4 linked regions of the Homo sapiens genome follow. The protein of the gene in region 2 interacts with the protein of the main gene of each other region in a biochemical or structural test. Each region holds a gene or a part of one and is shown on either strand. Other genes may lie near its edges.

Evidence for each region.
Region 1: the proteins of MTMR1 (region 2) and CASK interact in a test that uses a peptide from one of them, tested with the Homo sapiens proteins (one large-scale study listed by IntAct).
Region 3: the proteins of MTMR1 (region 2) and FRMPD2 interact in a test that uses a peptide from one of them, tested with the Homo sapiens proteins (one large-scale study listed by IntAct).
Region 4: the proteins of MTMR1 (region 2) and HTRA4 interact in a test that uses a peptide from one of them, tested with the Homo sapiens proteins (one large-scale study listed by IntAct).

The regions. Positions count from the first base shown.
Region 1 is NC_000023.11:41,527,716-41,532,941, reverse strand, and holds part of CASK (peripheral plasma membrane protein CASK), read left to right. Parts: intron 1-1,732; coding exon 1,733-1,935; intron 1,936-5,226. UniProt on the Homo sapiens protein: Multidomain scaffolding Mg(2+)-independent protein kinase that catalyzes the phosphotransfer from ATP to proteins such as NRXN1, and plays a role in synaptic transmembrane protein anchoring and ion channel trafficking.
Region 2 is NC_000023.11:150,698,729-150,703,954, forward strand, and holds part of MTMR1 (phosphatidylinositol-3-phosphate phosphatase MTMR1), read left to right. Parts: intron 1-466; coding exon 467-572; intron 573-5,226. UniProt on the Homo sapiens protein: Lipid phosphatase that specifically dephosphorylates the D-3 position of phosphatidylinositol 3-phosphate, generating phosphatidylinositol. Could also dephosphorylate phosphatidylinositol 3,5-bisphosphate to produce phosphatidylinositol 5-phosphate.
Region 3 is NC_000010.11:48,235,858-48,241,083, reverse strand, and holds part of FRMPD2 (FERM and PDZ domain-containing protein 2), read left to right. Parts: intron 1-591; coding exon 592-724; intron 725-1,391; coding exon 1,392-1,479; intron 1,480-2,960; coding exon 2,961-3,093; intron 3,094-4,530; coding exon 4,531-4,602; intron 4,603-5,226.
Region 4 is NC_000008.11:38,983,341-38,987,534, forward strand, and holds part of HTRA4 (serine protease HTRA4 precursor), read left to right. Parts: intron 1-4,194. UniProt on the Homo sapiens protein: Serine protease.

The sequences.
Region 1 (5,226 bases), about 110 Mb from region 2:
CTATTAGGGTGGCTGAGGCATGAAAATCGCTTGGAACCCGGGAGCTGGAAGTTGCAGTGAGCTGAGATCTTGCTACTGCACTCCAGCCTGGGCAACAGAGTGAGACCCTGTCTCAATAAATAAATAAATAGTAACGCCGGTTCTTCAGCTTTTGATGTGCCTAGAGAAAGGGCTTCTCTTAAAATGTCCACATTTTGATGACCACGAGCACTTTATGTTCTAACAAACAGGCTAGCAGGAAAGGGGGATTCCCCATTAGTTTAGGCTCATGTATACAGAAGAGAGTAGCATAAATTTGTTCTTTCTCAAAGAAAGAAGGAAGCAAAGAAATTGAGAGAGAGAGGGAAAAAAAGGGAAGGAAGGGAGAAAAGAAAGGGGGGTAGGGAGAGAGAATATTAAAACCAGTGTTCCTGGCTCATCTAGAAAAACATTTCCTAAAGTGTGTTTTGCAGGATACTGGTCCTATTAGTATCCACAGAACTAGAGCTTATTGGCATATACTTCAGTTACACTCACTTAGGTGAGGGGTGGGCAAGCCTTTTCTGTAAAGGACCAGATAGTACACATTTGAGGCTTTAAGGCCATACAGTCTATCACAAGCACTTAGCTCTGCTGTTGTCTCATGAAAACAACCATAGGCAATATGTAAACAAAAGCACATGGCTGTGTTCCAGTAAAACTTTGTTTACAAAAACAGACAGTAGGTGGCCAGGTGCAGTGGCTCACACCTGTAATCCCAGCACTTTGGGAGACTGAGGCGGGCAGATCACCTGAGGTCAGGAGTTTGAGACCAGTCTGGCCAACATGGTGAAACCCCGTCTCTGTTGGAAATACAAAAAATAGCTGGGCATGGTGGTACACGCCTATAATCCCAGCTGCTCAGGAGGCTGAGGGCACAAGAATCTCTTGAACCCAGGAGGTGGAAGTTGCAGTGAGCTGAGATCGCACCACTGCACTCCAGCCTGGGCTACAGAGTGGGACTCTGTCTCCAAAATAAAAAAATAAAAATAAAAAAAGACAGTAGACCATGTTTGGCCCATAAGCCAGTTTGTCACCTCCTGATTTAGGTCTTCCATAATAATTATGGGTATGTCTGGCCACAGTCATTGTGTTTTCAGTGTAACGTGTCTTTTGCTGTATCCTAACATTCTCCTTTTGCAAGATGTTATAGAACATCACTTTTCAATAGAACTTTCTGTGACAATGACAGTACTTGATGTCTGTGCAGTCCAGTACAGTGGCCACTAACCATACGTGGTTATTGAATCCTTGAAATGCCACTAGTGAGACTGAGAAACTAAAATTTGAATTTTATTTAATTTTGGCTTATTTAAATTTAACCATATGCAGTTTTCCATTTTTTTATTCTCCTTTTTTCCTTCTACACAAGACCCAACTGCATTAAGGCATACAGTGAGTTATATTAATCTTGGGTCATTTCACGTCTTCCTCCTGTGGTGGTTCATGAAGGGATAAAATACATCTCACCTGAACACTGAAAGTTTCACCAAACCAGACAATTCACTGGCTACTATGGTGTGATGCACACAGATAAATATGGTTTCTAGAATTTAGTTCTGCAAAGCCACTGGGGGTGAGAACAGGGGATATGAGATATACGCTAAAGAATCCACAGCTTTTAGGAAGAGACTGGGTTTGAGTAAATCTGTTGGGAGTGTAGTAAGCTCATCAGCTCAGCCTTTTAAACCTCTTGTGCCATGCGACTTTGCAGATACAACCAGACCTCCAAAGAAAGACGAAGAAAATGGAAAGAATTATTACTTTGTATCTCATGACCAAATGATGCAAGACATCTCTAATAACGAGTACTTGGAGTACGGCAGCCACGAGGATGCGATGTATGGGACAAAACTGGAGACCATCCGGAAGATCCACGAGCAGGGGCTGATTGCAATACTGGACGTGGAGCCTCAGGTAATGCCCAGCCTCCCCGAATGTCTGACATCCTGCCTGCATGCCAATAAGCACAGATTCTGAAATCAAAAATGCCATCAGAAAGTCACAGGTCACATAATAATTTCATAAACCACAGAAAAGTATCAGTAATGGAGGCGTTGGGGGTTCACAGTCTAGAATGCCAGCTGACTAATCGTTGGACTCAGTGCACACACCATGTATTTAAGAAGCAGAGATTATTCTCTTAAGAGGTTTATTATATGCAGAAGCTCAGTAAGGTTCCTGATTGTGTCTACGCCTGCCAGAAATCCTACGATCATCTGACCTCAGGATGAGGCTCTGGCACTTTGTTATCACAACAGCCACCTTCCCTCTCTGGGTACAGCTCACGCTGGACCATCAGAGCCTCTACCAGCACATTATGTTAATCTCCAGTGAGAAACTGATCCTGGGGCCTGGGTCTGAAACACAGCACTAGCTTTATGAAAGCAAGCATGAGTGAGCCCAGATGTCAGAGACAGCAGGGATGGAAACCCATGGTGGCTCTCAGCCTCTGCCATTTCCTTACCTGAGCACAATGCCTGACCCTGAGCAAAAACTAGGAGAGAGATAAAGACTTGGAAGAGGACTCAAAAGAGAGCCAGACACAGAGATGATGAAATGGTTTCTAGATATGTCTTGCAGTAGGAATTATTAAACTTGAAAAAGAGAAAGCTGAAGGCTTTACATCAAAAATGCTGACAAGCTGTTTTTTCATCTCTGAGTACAAACCAAGTAGATATGGGAGGCAAAGTATAGTAGGAAGGATTTGGGAGTTGTAGACATCAAGGTGGGTTATAGGAGAGGCTTGTGGGTGCCATGTGACTCCTGGGTCTGCCATTTCTAGGACTGATCTGTACCAAATCTCCTTTAACCCTTAGAAATAGAACCAGTATGCTACCTGCTGAAATAGTAGACCAGCTTCCCTCAAGCAGGCTGTGTTTCATCAGGAGGCTTACCTGGCTATCTTAGGCAGGGCGAATCCCTGTTCAAGGGCCACTGTATGAGACTTGGTCCCCTAACCATCCCTAAAGCAAGGACAGAACCTATATAGCCAGAGTCTGTGTGACCTGGGACCTGACAGCTCAGTTTCTGGGCTCCAGGATCCTAATTCGTGGCCAGTGGGTTCACCCATTTCCGTTTACAACACCTGATGGGGTTCTTGAACTTGGAACTTTGGAAACCACAAAAGGATCTGTTCAAGGGGCTAGGGAGGAAAGCAGCAGTAGGGTGAACACTGCCGTTTACTTAACAATTAACTTGGACCTATATAGAACTAAATATATGATGTGTACCACAGATTGATTTTTGTTTAACTACTAATCCCTCCTTACTAGGGATTGGAAAAATCTTCTGGCCAGGGGTGGCTAGAGGCAAAGTCTCAATCCTGGTCCTGGTCTTCGACATCCTCTCCTTGGGTTCCACACTGGTCTTCACCTGAACGTCGTTTTCTGCTGGTAGTAATGTCTCTAGCAGTATGCTGGCTGCAGGGCTCCTCAGACTCCCTCTGCATTACCTAAGTCCACTTTCGAGGGCTTTCTGCCTTACCTGCCTCCGCTGCTGCCGCCGCCACCGCCACTGCTGCTGCTGCCGCTGCTGCTGCTGCTCCACCCATAGCGTCCAGCTCTCCCTTTCTCCTTGCCCTTGCACAGCCATGCATTGCTCTGCACTGCTGAGTGGGAGACACTTCTCTCAGCCTCCTCAGGACACCCACAGCAGTTACTTTTACCCATTGCACTTGGCCCCAAAGCACCTCCTCACCCCGGCTGGGCACTCTCCTCTGCTCCCCTGAGTGCTGGATGAGCTCACCTGCACTCTTCTCTCCTGCTTCCTGGGTCCCTGCCTCTCAGAACTGTGATCTCTCAGATCCACCTAGCCCTGAGGGCCGGCCATAGGCATCCTGGCTGCCTGAGTCTCTTTGGGCCAGCGGCCCTGGGGATAGGGATTGCCCAGGTCCTGCTCCTCCTGTTGGTCTGGTTGACTACACTGGTCCCAGGCCCTCCTGCGCAGGCCAGCCTCATGCCAGTCCTGGTCTCACAATGACCATTGCATACCACAGTACAGCTGAGAATGCCCGCAGTCTGCACCGACTGGGCTTCACTCTCGGGCTTCTCTGCCCTCAGCCCAGTCTCTCCTCAGCTGGACAAGGCCTTCATCCTGCCTTCAGGATACCCGTGACCATGAACAACTTGCTTTCAGGCAGAGCCTCACTGCTCCAGGGAGGCTCTCTCCTTAGGACATTTTTCTCCATCCCCCTTTCCCACTCCAGCTTCTTAGATGACCCCTCTACTGTATCTTACAGACAATTTAATCCAACAAACTTGTATTAAGCCCTTATTATATGTCAAGCACAGGGTCAGGAGCTAAGAATACAATTCAGAAGACAAGATGGTGAGGATGAAATTCCTTCCTCATTGTACATCCAAAACTGTCCATAACAGAAGGGCCTTGTGGCATTTTTTAGAATCCTCTCACTTCTGCCAAACTACATGTGGACCATAGGAAAACCACCTAACACATGTCCAGCTCTTTTAGTACAGGTCTAATACTTTATGCCATCTTATTTCAGACAACTGAGGCCCAATTGAGCACGTCTAATAATACTATATGATAAGATGTTGTGGTCCAACTTTAAAGCTAGAGGATGATGGTAAAGACATTAAACTAGAAAGAAATTAATAACCTAGCTTCTCATAAAATAGTAATAGATTATGTTCTTATAGTGCTGTATATTTTGCCAGGCGTTATGACTCCTTACCTAATCCTTGTAACCCTATGAGCTGGAGATCAGTATCTAGTTTTGTAGATGGAGAAACCAAGGCTTAACATAATTGTGACTCGATTAAGGCTTTACAGCCAATTGAAAGTGAGGTGTGAAGTTGAACTGTGTTGATTTTTAAATTTTTATTCTTTTACAGTAAATCCCCACTTCCTTTCACTGTACCACCCTAGAAGAGGTAACCCTGGGAATCCTTAAGATGGTTCACCTTATCCATAGTAGTACAATGTAAAGCCTCATTTTTTCTTAACATTCAGAAAAATCTGTAATTCAGTCAAACCTAAGAAAAGCTGTAGAATTTATTTCTCATGAAAATAAAGCTATGGCTCAGAAAATAATCTGTGCCCCTAAAGCTGAAACTGTAATAGCCCCAGTGTGTAATCAGAGCTTAATGTGATGGTTTTAGATTTTAACTTTATTCTGATGTATCCATTTGTAGCATGAAAAAGTTAATAGTAGCAGAATATTTGTAGTTTTGCTTTTGCCCACAG
Region 2 (5,226 bases):
AGCCGGGCCTGGTGGCATGTGCCTGTAGTCCCAGCTACATAGGAGGCTGAGGTGGGAGGATCACTTGAACCTGGGAGGTTGCAGTGAGCTGAGATTGCACCACTGCACTCCAGCCTGGGTGACAGAGTGAGACCCCATCTCACAAAAAAAAAAAGAAGTATTTCTTCCATATAATTTTAATAGAGTAAAATTCCATTAAATGGTAGAGAATAGTAAGCTTAACTAACACCTAGAATCTTCAACTTTGTTTGAGAAAATTGGGTGATTCATTTAAAATTAACCTGGAATCTAATCTTATTTCCTAGTTGTCAGTCGCTATTTCAGTTCTTACATAAAATGTGAAGGTAACCAAAGAGTCTAGTTAGTTCATCTAAAAAAAGAAGTGTTATCATATTCCTATTCAGTGCTAATTTTTTCACTGAGATCCTATGATATAACGTTTTGTAATCCATGCTATTTTTTTTAGTCCCACAGGATCACATGTTGAATGGTGTAAACAGCTTATAGCTGCTACAATTTCTAGTCAGATTTCAGGTTCAGTGACATCAGAAAATGTGTCCAGAGATTACAAGGTAAGCAACATTGAGTGTTTAATTCATTTTCAGTATGCTAAGTAGCCAAGAAGCTTTGCAGTTTTAATTCAAGTGAGCTGTTGGCCTTTTGATGCAACATGGCCATTTGCTCGAGAATAAGGATGAAAGGTTCTCTGTTGTTAGATCTGAAATGTAGAAGAGAAATTTTACCAGTATCCAGTACATGTAGTCATAGTTTTGTAATTGAAAGGAGAAGCTGTCTTTAGATGACAATGATTCTTTTAAAAATCAAGTTCCATTTTATAATAATAAATGCATATAGCTTCTTTGTTAGTATTGTGAGTTTCAGGAAATATCTTGATGTACAATACTTCCCTAACTTCACAATTTTTTAATTTATGTATTATCTGTGAGTATTCAGCATTAACATGTGATACTAGAATGTATAAAAACCCTTCCAGAATCTCAAAAGAGTATTGTATGGGCAGCCTCATTTTTCAGTCCTTACTGAAGTGAAAATCTCTTTTTGTTCATTTTAAAAGTTAGATTCCCTGCTTATTCTAAATTTAAGTGATAAGCTCCTTGTCAGCAGAGACTAGGGCAGTTTTACCACTGGCTTCCCAGGCACAATCCTGGAGCATAACAGTTGCTCAATAAATATTGAATCAATTAACAAATCAAAAAAATCGCTTGTTCCATCTTTGTTAAGGCTAAAGACTAACTTTGTTTTAATGTCAATAAACTATTAATAGGTATATTAAATGAAATCACATTTATATTTCAGTACTGATGTTTGCCTAAGTTGAGGTTTCTGTTTATTAGTGGTCATTTTTCCTGCTAGTAAGAGATGATTGATTTTTCACAAGTGTGTGTAAAATGCATTTGGTATCCCAGACTACCATTAGTTAATAGTCTCTCAATATCATGGTCCTTGCCAGACATCAAATCTTACAAATATCAAGAATTACAGTAAAGATCCTAATTAATTCTTAATAGGTACTCCTTGTTTAGGAGCTTTATCTTCAGTTCCTCTTTAGAGCTCATAGGGTAATAACAAGTGCAGAAACAGGCTCAGGAGGCCAATTAATTGAGATTTGGCTATGGTGCTGTCTCTTGCCTCATCCAAACTGGCAGATGCTGTTGATTATGCCTACCAAAGGAAGGCATAGCTGTGGATTAGCAGAAATTGGATAATCTGCCCAGCTAGAAGAGTGACAGTGTATTTCTTAATCATTTTTCCTGCTATGTGGTGTTCATGTTTGCCCATAAAAGAGCAGCTGGGGCTCCTGGACCTTAAAACCTGGTCGGGCAAACACACTGTCTCCAGGTGGGAGAAGCATTTGCTGCATCACTGATGCGTGAATGGCTGGTCACTGAGCAGCTGCGGATCGCATCAGTTCCAGTTGCCCTATTGCCTGCACCTTAGCTGAGAAACTGCCCGCTGAGTAGAGAGACTTAAGAACCCATTTTAGCAGAGAATAGCTCTCACACTTCGGGGTGATTTTCTTTATGGACAATTATGAGTTAACTGTAATGTTTTCATTAAGGTTGAATAGTTGTTAGTGTTGTGTGTGTCCTATAAAAGATTGAATGTCGACTGTGTGCATAGCTTTCTAACATTGCATGAATAGATCAGACTGAATCTGTACTTTAACATGAAGCAACTAAGTTTTTTCAATCTCAGTCTATTTACAAATTTTGTGTAGCTGAATTAGCTCATGTTGGAATGGTTGAACAGATGGTATTCAGAAAAAATAAGGCTTTCTTTCTTTTGGAAATTAAATTTTAAGTTCCTACATCAGATCATAGCTAAAGTCTTTGATGAATTATTGTAAGGGGGCATGTTTTATAATTGTCTTTGTTATATTTGCCCTGCAGCCAAATCTGAAAAGTTGGTGTTAAATTTATAACTCAGGGGTTGTTACACTTTCTTCAAGGAGAGTTTTTTTTTTTACATAATAAATACATAAAATATTTCTAAACCACAAGGATAATTGTACATGTTCCCTATAAAGTAGTTCTTAAAATCAGGGTAACCAAAATGGGCCTTTGGGACCCCTCTGGCATGGGAGCTATTGCATGGGGTTGACCCTGAAGAGCCAGATAAAGTTCCTTGAGGATTTAAGTTGCAGTCATCAGCTGATATTTGAAATTATCTGTTGTGTAAATGTCTTATTTGAAATACACACTTAATTTGGGGGCTAATTTATTATAGATTAAACTCAACATCAGTAATTAAATGGGAGCAGATGTTTATGTGGAGCAGAATGCTTGGCATCTTATTTGAAATGCTGATTGTCTTCTGAGTTGTAACAGGCTGTCGAGAATGGTTCTATGTCATCATCATCATCATCATCATCAACCCTCTAACACATACAGGCTCTGGGGTTTTGTAATGCTTTTTGACATGTCATCCATTTAAGCCTTAAAACAACCTAGTGAATCTGGGTGTGGTGGTCTGTAGTCTCAGCTACTTGGAAGGCTAAGATGGGAGGATCACTTGAGTCCAGGAGTTCAAGGCTGCAGTGTGCTGTGGTCACACTTGTGAAAAGCCAATGCACTCTAGCCTAGACAACATAGAGAGATCTTGCTTCTTTAAAAAAGTCCATTGAGGTAGCTATTACTACAATCATCATTTAATGGATGAGGAAACCGAGGCCTAGAGAGATGAAATGACTTGCTTAGGGTCATACAGTTAGACTTGGGATTTGAACTCAAGTCATCCTATTGAAAAGCTAGAGTGATTTTAAGATTTTGTCCCACCCCCATTCCCATCCACTGCTTTTCGATCTTTTTTTTTCTTCTTTTTCTTCTTCTTCTTTCTTTCTTTTTTTTTTTTTTATAGAGATGGGGTCTTACTACGTTTCCCAGGCTGGTCTTGAACTCCTGGGCTCGAGCGATCCTCCCATCTCGGCCTCCCAAAATGCTGGGATTAGAGGTGTGAGCCACCATACCCAGCCTCATCCACTGTTTTTCAAAATGTGACCCTTGGGTCTTCCCAAGACAGCATTCTCTGGAGCACCTGTAAAAATGCAGCTTCCCGGGCTCCATCCCAGATTTACTGAATCAGAGTGTCTGAGGGAGGGAAACAAGTGTCTCATATATTTCTTATGCATGATAAAATCTGAAAACCTAGGCTTCCTGAGTTTCTGTCTGTTGAAATTGGTGATGGGACCCTGCATTTCTGGTATATTACTAAGAATCTGAATAATTAGCAACTCAGATATTGGAGAATAATTATTTTATTATTTACTCATATCATAAATTGTCAGTCAGCCCAGGGTCAGCTCATCTAAAGTACAGTAAGAATATCGCTGGTATCACGTGACATGAGTTTAGATGGTATGTCCATGGACGTATTTTAGTAGCTATGTAATTATTTTCTTGTGTATTAGAAAAATCAGCACATCAGGCTTGTGATTTAGTAGATGTTATGGCTTAGAGCAGGCAAAGTATTAAAAAGGAATGGATTTTAAATCAATATAAAGATAAATACAAAATTAGTATGGGCAGTTGGCAGATACAGCAAGCCAAACTTGTTGAGGTGGTATGTGAAATGGCAAGTTTGGCAAGCATTGTCCCAGCTGAAAGAGTAGATAGCTATTATACTGAATTGTGTGGCAGCTAAATTAATAAATGCCTGATTTAATACCGAGTCATCCTGAAGATTGGCCTGTTAATTAAGACTATTACACAAAATGTAATAAAATATTTGTTTTGCTTGTCCCCCCTCCACTACCAACTCAATTGCTTTCATTTTTACTAGGCTAACAAATGGTAAAAAATTTCTCTTGAATTTGCCAGAAATTTTAAGAACAAAATTTGAATGTAATCTTCTGTAGATTAGATGAAATAATACAGTTACAAATGGAAACATTTTTAGGAACTATTAGTAGAAGTGACATCATTGATCACAGCTTCCATTGTTTGGAAAGTAGGACTAGGTTATGAAAAGAGAACATGATGGAGTAGTACAAACAATATTGGTTAGCTTGTGACCTTGTATAGTCTCTGAGGCTCAGTTTCCTTTTCTGGAAGGATAAAGGGGCTTGGATTAGATTATTCACCTCTAAATGCCTTTCTTGCTAGAACATTATTCAATTGTGTTCAAAAGAATTTGATCTGGGCCAGCTTTATGAAAATTAGGACACTATAGTTTTAATGTGATCATCTTCCTTCCTCTTGCTTCATCATTATCATCAGCTCTTCTCTGTTCTCCTTCCCTCACCCACACACACACAGTAGCTATATCTCTTCTCTAAACATTCTGAAGAAAAATGAGAAAATGGAGATGGCCTTATACTAAGTTTAATCATTGGATGGGATAGTACAGTAATTACATTTGGAGGGAAGTCGAAGGCAGAGTATAGGAAAGACTTCATTATGCTTGAGCTGGGTCTTGGTTAACATTTCTTAAATTGGGCCCTAGTCTATGAAAAGGGAAGCTTTAGCATGAACCTTCAAAATCTACTTCTGTAATCTATAGCCTGGCCTTGTGACTTATAAATCAGAGCTTGCAAACTCAGATGCCTTCATGGAACAGTTCACAAATCTAGGCAGACATGGAAGAGTGCTGTAGAGAACTGGAGAGTACAGAATGCCCACCTAACAGCAATTAAATTTTTTTAAAAACCATAGGCCTCCAGTTTTGTAACCACTGTAATAGATAGAAGAGTGCTATCCTATCATGGTT
Region 3 (5,226 bases), on a different chromosome or scaffold from region 2:
ATACTGAGGTCTACCATCCACTGGTGTGCCATTGTCCTTGGATAGACAGTGTACTGACCTGCAACATTTCCGTCAGGGATCTGCAAGGTAGATGTCAGTCACGTATTCAACATTCATTGGGCACTGCATTAGGTGTGCTACGGTGGTGCATAAAGCACACAGAGATGTTGGGGGAGACAGACAAGCAGCACACTCATGGAACATGATGCAACAGAGCCAGGTGTGAGTGCAGTGATAAGGGAAGGTGATCAGACGGCAGAGGTAGAGAGGCTTAGAAGTAGAAAGCACACAGCTCTGGGTCTTGTGGGCACAGAGGAGCTTCTGGGGAGGCTGTAGCCATGGAGGGAATGCATGAGCAAAGGCACAGATGTGTGTGAGTGTGCAGGTCTGGAGTGGGGAGTGAAGTGCCTTCAGGGTGCATGCAGGGGGTGGGCACAGAGCACATTCTGGGTGCCAGAGAACACATCTTTAGGTCACCGTATAGGGCAGACAATTCCACATTGATTCAGTCTGACAGCCAGTTTGCATGTATCTATAAAAACGCCCCCTCCTTATCTTGGGATGTGGATGTGTGATGCACTTGACCCCCAGGTGGAGAAAAGAGTTGTGGAGGAAAGCTCCTCTGTGCAGCAGAACAGAAGCTACCTGCTCAGGAAGAGGCTGCGTGGGACAAGCAGCGAGAGCCCAGCGGCACAGGCCCCGGAGTGTCTGCATCCTTGCAGAGGTGGGTACGTGCCCTAAGCAGTCCCTGCGTGGGCTGATGGTACCCATTCTATTTTTTCCTGCCCTGTATGGGCTACACATCCACATTGTGATGGCAGAGAAAGCCTATGTAAGTGCCACTCTTTCAGGAAGCCCCTGAAGAGAAGGGGCTGAGCTTAGGACTCACCTGTGTTCCCAGGAAAGTCTTATTTGGGGACACAACACAGTTATTTATATCAAATGAAAACTTTAAAAATGAGTTCTAACTGTCCAAGTTGAGAAAATCCAAATTGAAACAAACAACAAGAAAAGAAAAACTTGATTTTTTTTTCAGTTATTGTTCTGGGTGTGTTAAAAGAGTGGTTTTTGGAATAATCTTCAAATCTACTGTTCTCTACTTTTCAACTAAATCTGAGCTTTTTTTAAAAAAATTAATGTTATTGTTTGTTGTCTCTAAAACAAAGTGCACTTTGCCATTAGGCTTTATCTTCCCTTGTAACCCTCCCTCCAACCCTCTGTAACTGTCATTTCTGTTTTCTACATGAGGAAACAGATTCAGAGAGGCTAAGGAATTTCACCAAGGTCACACAGCTAGTAAGTCATGATGCCATTCATGCTCTGAGATGCCTGATTTAAGAAAGCCGTGATCTTGGCTTCTGCCCATACCCTCTACCATGCTGCTTGATTAGTTTCAGAAAGAAGCACGGAGACCCAGAGCTCACCAGAGCCCCATTGGAGCACCTTGACACACAGTCACTGCAGCCTCCTTGTTAACCGGTAAGCAGCAAGGCCTAAAGGGTGCTGTGAACTTGATGTGAGACATAGGTGTGGGGGCTATGGTACCTTATTTCTTTACTGATTATTAGTAAGAAGCCTCTTGCTCCTCCAGAAAATGCCAATGCTATTCCATTAACAGATGAAGAAGCCACATTTAAGCAGATCCGAAGCCAAGATAATGAGGGGCCTGGTGGCAGCTGTGCTGTCAGGGCATCCTGTTTCCTCTGGGAACCATACTCAGGCCGAGTGGCGGAGCAACAACATGCCTCAATATTGTTGCCATTATCCATTGCCATACCATGCTGCATAACAAGCAACCACAAAACACAGTGGCTAAAAGCAACAATTATGAATTTAGCTCATGATTCTGTGAGTTGGTCATTTAGGCTGTGCTCAGCTGGGAGGTCTTCTAGACTCTGCTGAAAGCCTTCCTGCCTTTTTGACTGTCTTCGGCTCGGCTATCCAGCTTCTCCTGCGGGGTGAATGGCCATTGTCTGGGAAGCTCTGGCTCTCCTCCACCAGCAGGTCAGCCTAGGATTGTTCTCGTGACAATGGCAGAACTGACAGAGAGGAACTGAGAGAGAGAGAGAGAGACAGAGAGACAGAGAGAAAGAGGAGAGAGAGGAGAGAGGACGGCAAGGTGCATAAAGCCTTCAGAACTGGTCTTCCATCATTTCCACTTCATTCTGTTGGCCATATCAGGCCTAAAGGCCAGCCCCATTTCAAGGAGTAAGAAATAGACTCCATCTCTTGATGGCAGGAGGCTGCAAAGTCGGATTGCAAAGGGTGCAGATCAGGGAGAAGAACTGTGGACATTTTTGCAATTGTCTAACTTAGGATGCTTGAATCAGATCAAAACCTAGATGGGCTCATATCTTCCTGGACCTGGAACGGTGTTTATTTTGAAGTTTGGGTGATTTATTTATTCACATGGTGACCTGTTGAGGGCTGTAACAGTGTCTTGTCATAGTTGATGTCAAATCCACAGCTGACGCCCTGATTGGATATCGTAGAGTTTATCTTGCAATACTTTTTCCTGCCATTTAAAACTTTATTTTCCCAATGAAAACAATTTTTACCCCCTGATTCCTTAAACAATATATTTTATTGTCAAAATATTTTGAACAACATATCAAATTCTAAAGAAGCCAGAACTGCTGCAGTCCCATGACCTGCTGGGTGGTTGCTCTAGACCTGGGGTCCTGGCACCACAAACAGAGAGGTAAAGCCATGGGGTGGAGAAGTCGACTGTGCCTTGTACCTCCAACCCCACCCCACCCCAGTGGCTGTGCAGCCTGGCTTCTCCAGGCCTCAGCTTCCCCCACTTGAAAAATGGATATAACTCCCCCATAGGTGGGGGAGAAGGTGACATGCATCAGTGGGTGCACCCTGCCCAACTGAGCCCCTGTGCGGGTGGTCTTTCATGCCATGGAAGCCCTTGCCATTGCTAAGTGCTTCACCCCTTCTCAACCCCTGGCCAGCGCTCTTCCAGGAGCAGATCCCCAGGACCAGCAGGCGGGCCGGAGGCTCAGCTCTGGATCTGTGCACTCGGCAGCAGACAGCTCATGGCCAACAACTCCTTCTCAGAGGGGTTTTCTGCAAAGAAGGAGCAAGGTAAGCAAAATAAGGCTGAAGGACACTCCTCAAGGAGGCTTGAGCAGGGAGCTGTGGGTGGCTGGCACGGTGGCTGAAAATGGGCAGGGTCTTCTAGGGGACAACTTCCCTGGGCTGAGGTTTATAGGATTGGACTAACATAAACCTGAAATTTGCAACTTAGGGCATAGGCATTCACTGAGTAGCCTCACTGGGGAAGGCTCTATGGGGGACGCTGTATAAGATGTAGGGTTAAAGATGCTGGGTCCCACCCTAGAGGAAGCCACCGGTGCGCAGGGTGGTGGCAGAGCGTGCTACATGATTCGAGAACTGACAAGGCAGAATGTGTTTGGAAGGGGCCTTCTGCACAGGTGAAAGGTGGGAGCATAGATCCAGGGCCGCAGGGAGGGCTTCTATAGGGAGGAGAGAGTTATCCTTCCAGCTGGCTAACCCTAAGAGGGTAATAGGGTTAGGCGGAATGTGCCTGTCTGTCTGTCAAAGTTAGTTAAGGTCCCTTGACTGAGCTGAGCTCCAAATAGCCTCAGGATGTCCCTCTTCCTGTTTGGCCTATGGTTCCCATACGCTGGCCTGGCCCGCACTGTCCTCCTTGGCCCTTCTCTGGCCTCCATGAACTTGGTGGAGGGCGTGAAGAGGGCTTCTGAGAGGCTTTGTCCACCTCCTTTGGCTTTTCTTCCTGATCACTCACTAGAGATACTTCTATTGGGAACTCTTGCAGGACACAAGTCACTTCTGGGCTGGAATTTTGGCCTCTTGGGACAAGAGTCCTGCTAGGTACCCTTGGGGGCACTATAGAAGCCCTACCCAACCCTATCTCTTGCTGGTTATATGACTCAGGTGAGCTTCTTAAGCTTTTTTTTTTTTTTTTAAAGGTGAGGAGCCTCAACTTCCTCACCTGTAAAATGGGTTGAGAATATGCACCCCACAGGGGGATAGCTGGGTCTAGCTAGTGATGGGTATTGCAGTGTTTTCTGGGTCAAGTGTAATACAAACACACTGAGAACAAGAGGTGCCCACTAAGCTATTGATTCAACATCTAGAGCTAGAAAACATTTCAGCTCATCTAAATCTAAAAGTATTTTTGTTTTTTCAAGTATTTTTATTGCATTTATATTTATATTATACATTTTATACTTTTGATACATACAAAAGATGGAGTTCTGTGTAAATTATGAAACTTATAATTCACCCCGAACACCCCTGTACCCAACTTAAGAGCCAGAATGTTGCTGATACCCTATACCCACCTGTAAGACTTCTGCTCCAAGATGTACCATTCAGCTGGGGCCTCAGCCCAGGTCAGCCCCATCTTGGCCTGTTTTCTGCTGGCTCTGGGGAATGTATGCTGGTGGGGGCTGCAGAGGTGCATCATGGGGGAAGCCCAGACCCAAAGCCTGGAATCTGTTGTCTTCTCTACCATATGTGACTGTTTTCCTCCAGTTTTCCAGGCCAGAGTTCATCCTGTTGGCTGGAGAGGCCCCGATGACACTACATCTGCCGGGATCGGTTGTGGTAACTACTGGGCTAGACTGGGCAGGGATGGAGGGTGGCGAGGGAAGTGGGCAGTTGCGGGAGGCCAATTGTGTCTGAATGGGGTCTCACATGGGAACACCCCAGTGGCATTCAGTTTCCCCCAGACCTCTGCCAGAACCATCACTGCCTCCCACTGCTGCTGTTTTCCCTTCAGCCTGTTAAAGGGGCCCCACGTGACTTCCAGCTGAGTCCTGCTGGCCCTCCCAGCCTCAGCTAGGGAATGCTGTGAAACATCTACCAGGTGCCAGGCACTATTCTAGGCCCCCATCTATGCTGCGAATGAAACAAAGTCCTTTTCATGTGGAGATTACATTCTAGAAGGAGGCGGCAAAGACAGACAAAGACATAAATATAAAAGAATGCCAGGTAGTGATTTGTGCAAAAAAAAAAAACAAAAAACAAAAACAAAAAAACAACGAAGAAGGGAGGAGGATGGAGCATGGCAGGTGGTAGGAGGGAGAGTGTGCTCTTTTAGATAGGAAAGTGGCTCTGGGGAGGCATCTTGTGAACAAAGACTGGGTGAAGACAAGGAGTGAGCCTTGTGGGCTTTTCAGGAAGGGCAAATGCTGTGTGGGCTGTCCCTTCCCTGCCCCAGAGCCTGAG
Region 4 (4,194 bases), on a different chromosome or scaffold from region 2:
AGCATGGCCAACATACTGAAACCCCGTCTCTACTAAAAATACAAAAATTAGTGGGTGCGCCTGTAATTGCAGTTACTTGGGAGGCTGAGGCAGGAGAATCGCTTGAACATGGGAGGCAGAGGTTGCAGTGAGCTGAGATCACGCCACTGTACTCCAGTCTGGGCGACAGAGCAAGACTCCACCTCAAAAAAAAAAATATTATCATTATATAGTAGTATATTGGGGGGGTGTGTTATTTCAAGTGGATTTCAAAGACATAGGAAACAGAGTGTAAAATAACTATTTTAAAAATATCACGTTAAATGATAATATTTGGATATATTGTATTAAATAAGATATATTATTAAATTAAATTCATCTATTTAAAAATTTTTAAAAATGTGGCTACAAGAAAATTTAAAATTATGTATGTGGCTTGCATTATTGTCTACAGGACAGTGCTGATTCAGACTTGGGTACTTATAAAGGCTTTTTTTGTATTTTGGGAGGGAGGTGGTTCTCTATAGTCTAAGAAGAGCTCATGTTATGAGTTAATAGCATAAGTTTAAATTAATTTGGCTAGGAATTCCCAAATCTACCCTTTCAACATTAATAGTTATTACTTAATAACTATTAAGTGATTAACACCTATTAGGTATTAGTAACTATTAATTATTCATTAATAGTTTTTTTTTCTTTTGAGATGGAGTCTCACTCGTTGCCCAGGCTGCAGTGCAGTGGTGCAATCTTGGCTCACTGCAACCTCCACCTCTCAGGTTCAAGCAATTCTCCTGCCTCAGCCTCCCGAGTAGCTGGGATTACAGGCACCCGCCACCACGCTTGGTTAATTGTTGTATTTTTAGTAGAGACAGGGTTTCACCATGTTGGCCAGGCTGGTCTCGAACTCCTGACCTCAAGTGATCCACCCACCTCGGCCTCCCACAGTACTGGGATTACAGGCATGAGCCACCACGCCTGGCCATATTTTAGGTATTTTAAAACACATTTTTCGGCTGGGCATGTTGGCTCAGCCCTGTAATCCTAGCACTTTGGGAGGCTGAGGTGGGAGGATTGCTTGAGCCTGAGAGTTCGAGACCAGCCTGGGGAACACGGTGAAACCCTGTCTCTACAAAAAATAAAAATTAGGCCAGGTGCCGTGACTCACGCCTGTAATCCCAGTACTTTGGGAGGCCAAAGTGGGCAGATCACTTGAGGTCAGGATTTTGAGACCAGCCTGGCAAACTTGGTGAAACACCATCCCTACTTAAAAAATATAAAAATTAGCTGGGTGTGGTGTCGCATGCCTGTAATCCCAGCTACTTGGGAGGCTGAGGTCAGAGAATCGCTTGAACCTGGGCAGCAGAGGTTGCAGTGAGCTGGGATCACGCCCCTGTACTCCAGCCTGGGCAAGAAAGCGAGACCCCATTTAAAAAAACAAAAAACAAAAAACAAAAATTAGCCAGGTGTGGTGGTTTGCACCTGTGGTCCCAGTTACTTGGGGAGGTCGAGATGGGAGGATCACCTGAGTCTGGGCTGTAATGAGCTGTGCTCATGCCACTGCACTCCAGCCTGTGCAACAGAGTGAGACCCTGTCTCAAACAAACAAACAAGCAAAAAAAAACTACACCAAAACCTCACAAAACCTACATTTTTCTTTGAACTCTGAATGACAATATCAGAGGCCAGCGCTAAGACCTGTGTAATAAAGCAAAGGCTAGGACAGCTTCCAAAAGAAGGTTCTCCAGCTGATTTCACTGTTGTTTCAAAACATTTAATACTAAGTACTGAGAGAGGTGGCTTGTCCTACAAATATCATTCTCCTGGGCTTTTCTGTTGTACTTCTTTTTTTTTTTTTTTTTTGAGACGGAGTCTCGCTCTGTCACCAGGCTGGAGTGCAGTGATGCGATCTCGGCTCACTGCAACCTCTGCCTCCTGGGTTCAAGTGATTCTCCTGCCTCAGCCTCCCGAGGAGCTGGCACTACAGGCGTGTGCCACCACGCGCAGCTAATTTTTGTATTTTTAGTAGAGATGGGTTTTCACCATGTTGGCCAGGATGGTATCCATCTCTTGACCTTGTGATCCGCCTGCCTCGGGCTCCCAAAGTGCTGGGATTACAGGCGTGAGCCACCGCCCGCGGTCTGTACTTCTTTATTATCCCTTTCTCATTGTTTTTATTTTTCAAGAGCTCAGTAATCTGTTTAGATTATGGCACCACTTTCACTGGGGCTTTCCCCCTAGTGAAATCAGAGGGCACTGTTCAGCACAGCAGTCATAGGTCTCATGTTACTAAATTTGGCTTGTCCCTGGTTTCTCTGGACTTTTCTCATTCCTGCTCTGCTCCACTCTTCCCCCATTTCCTTAAGTTCTGGTTCAAGACCAAAGCTATTTCTTTCGGCTAAGTCCTTGCTACTCAGAATGTGGTCTGTAGACCAGCGTCATTAGCTCAGCTGGGGCTTGTTGGAAAGGCAGAATCCCAGGTCCCACCTTTGATCCACTGAATCGGAATCTGTGTGTTTAACAAGATCCCCAGGTGATTCATGTGTATGTTAAAATGTGAAAATTAGTGCTGGAAGTTGCTGATAAACAGAAATCAGGACTGGGCATGGTGGCTCATGCCATGATGTGGGAGGATCATTTGAAACCAGGAGTTTGAGACCAGCCTGAGCAACATAGTTTCTAAAGACAAATAAATAAAATAAACAAAATCAGCTGGGTGTGGTGGCAGGTGCCTGTAGGGAGGCTGAGGCAGGAGGATCATGTGAGCCCAGGAGTTTGAGGCTGCAGTGAGCCATGACTGCACCACTGTATTCCAGCCTGGGTAAGAGAGTGAGAACCTGTCTCAAACAAATCTATTCTTTCTGGCTTTCACTGACTTATACCTAATATAATGATAATTACACCACTATCTGGCACTTACAAAACTTTTACTATATCTCAGGCACTATTTGAAGTGTTTTATTTTTATTATTATTATTTTTTTGAGACTGAGTTTCGCTCTTGTTGCCCCAGCTGGAATGCAATGGCATGATCTCAGCTCACTGCAACCTCCGCCTCCTGGGTTCAAGCGATTCTTCTGCCTCAGTCTCCCAAGTAGCTGGGATTACACACCTAGCTAATTATTGTACTTTTAATAGAGACGAGGTTTCACTATGTTGGGCAGGCTGGTCTCGAACTCCTGACCTCAGGTGATCCACACGCCTGTGGCTCCCAAAGTGCTGGGATTACAGTGTGAGCCACTGCTCCTGGCCTATTTGAAGTGTTTTATACACCTGTTTGTGCTCCCAACATTTTATGATATAGGTATTATTTTATAGAGGAAGCAGCTGTGGTACAAAGAGGTTCATTAACTTGTAGAACGCAGTAAATCAGAGAGCAGAGAGCAGGGATGTGGGCCCTGGCTGAACCCTTCTATTATCCTGCTTTGGTGGCTGCTTTTCTGTTTCTGACAGGCAGAGTGATTTAGTGGCAAGAAGATGGGTTCCCAAGTCTGAAAGACCCAGGATGAAATCCCTCTCACAAGTTGCATGACACAGAAAAAGGTCATTTGTCCTGTCTGAGCCATAGTTCCTCATATTTGGTGCATAGGTTATTAGTAATAATTTGCAGGTTTCTTTTTCTCTTTTCTGACTCACAGGACTAGTATGAATTAAGTTCTCTATAAGTTCTTTCTTTGTACTCACTGGTCCTAAGTCATCCTCCTAAACTGTCTTTGTTCTAAGGTTATTTCTTGATTTTAGTTTTATACTTAAGCGTCTCTTCATATCCTCTTGCGTTAAGCTTCTTCTTTTTAAACTCCACATATCTTGATGATCAAACCACATTATCATTCTTCCTTGAGCTTCCCATTTCTATCAAGTGGTGTCTCCTGGAGTCATTTGCTGTTCCTTTTTCAGCCTATTTTCACCAAATCACTGGCATGGCTATTTCTGTATTGTAGTGTTTTGTATTTGGAGCTGGTTTTTGCTTCTAGAATATATACTCTATGTGAAGCAATTATGTTGAAGGCAATAAAGTCACAACTTTGGAGAAAAGGAGCCTAGAGCCAGAGCTGGAAATATTTAGACTCAGAAGGTTGGCGGGTTTTTGATTTAGTGGAAGCAGAATTCCTATAATGCAGCTCAGCATCCTTCCCAGCTCCATAAGCTGGGGCGGGGGGGTGGGGTGGGGTGGGAAAGACAGGCAAGTGAGTGGGCTGCCAGAATCAAACTGAGCCGA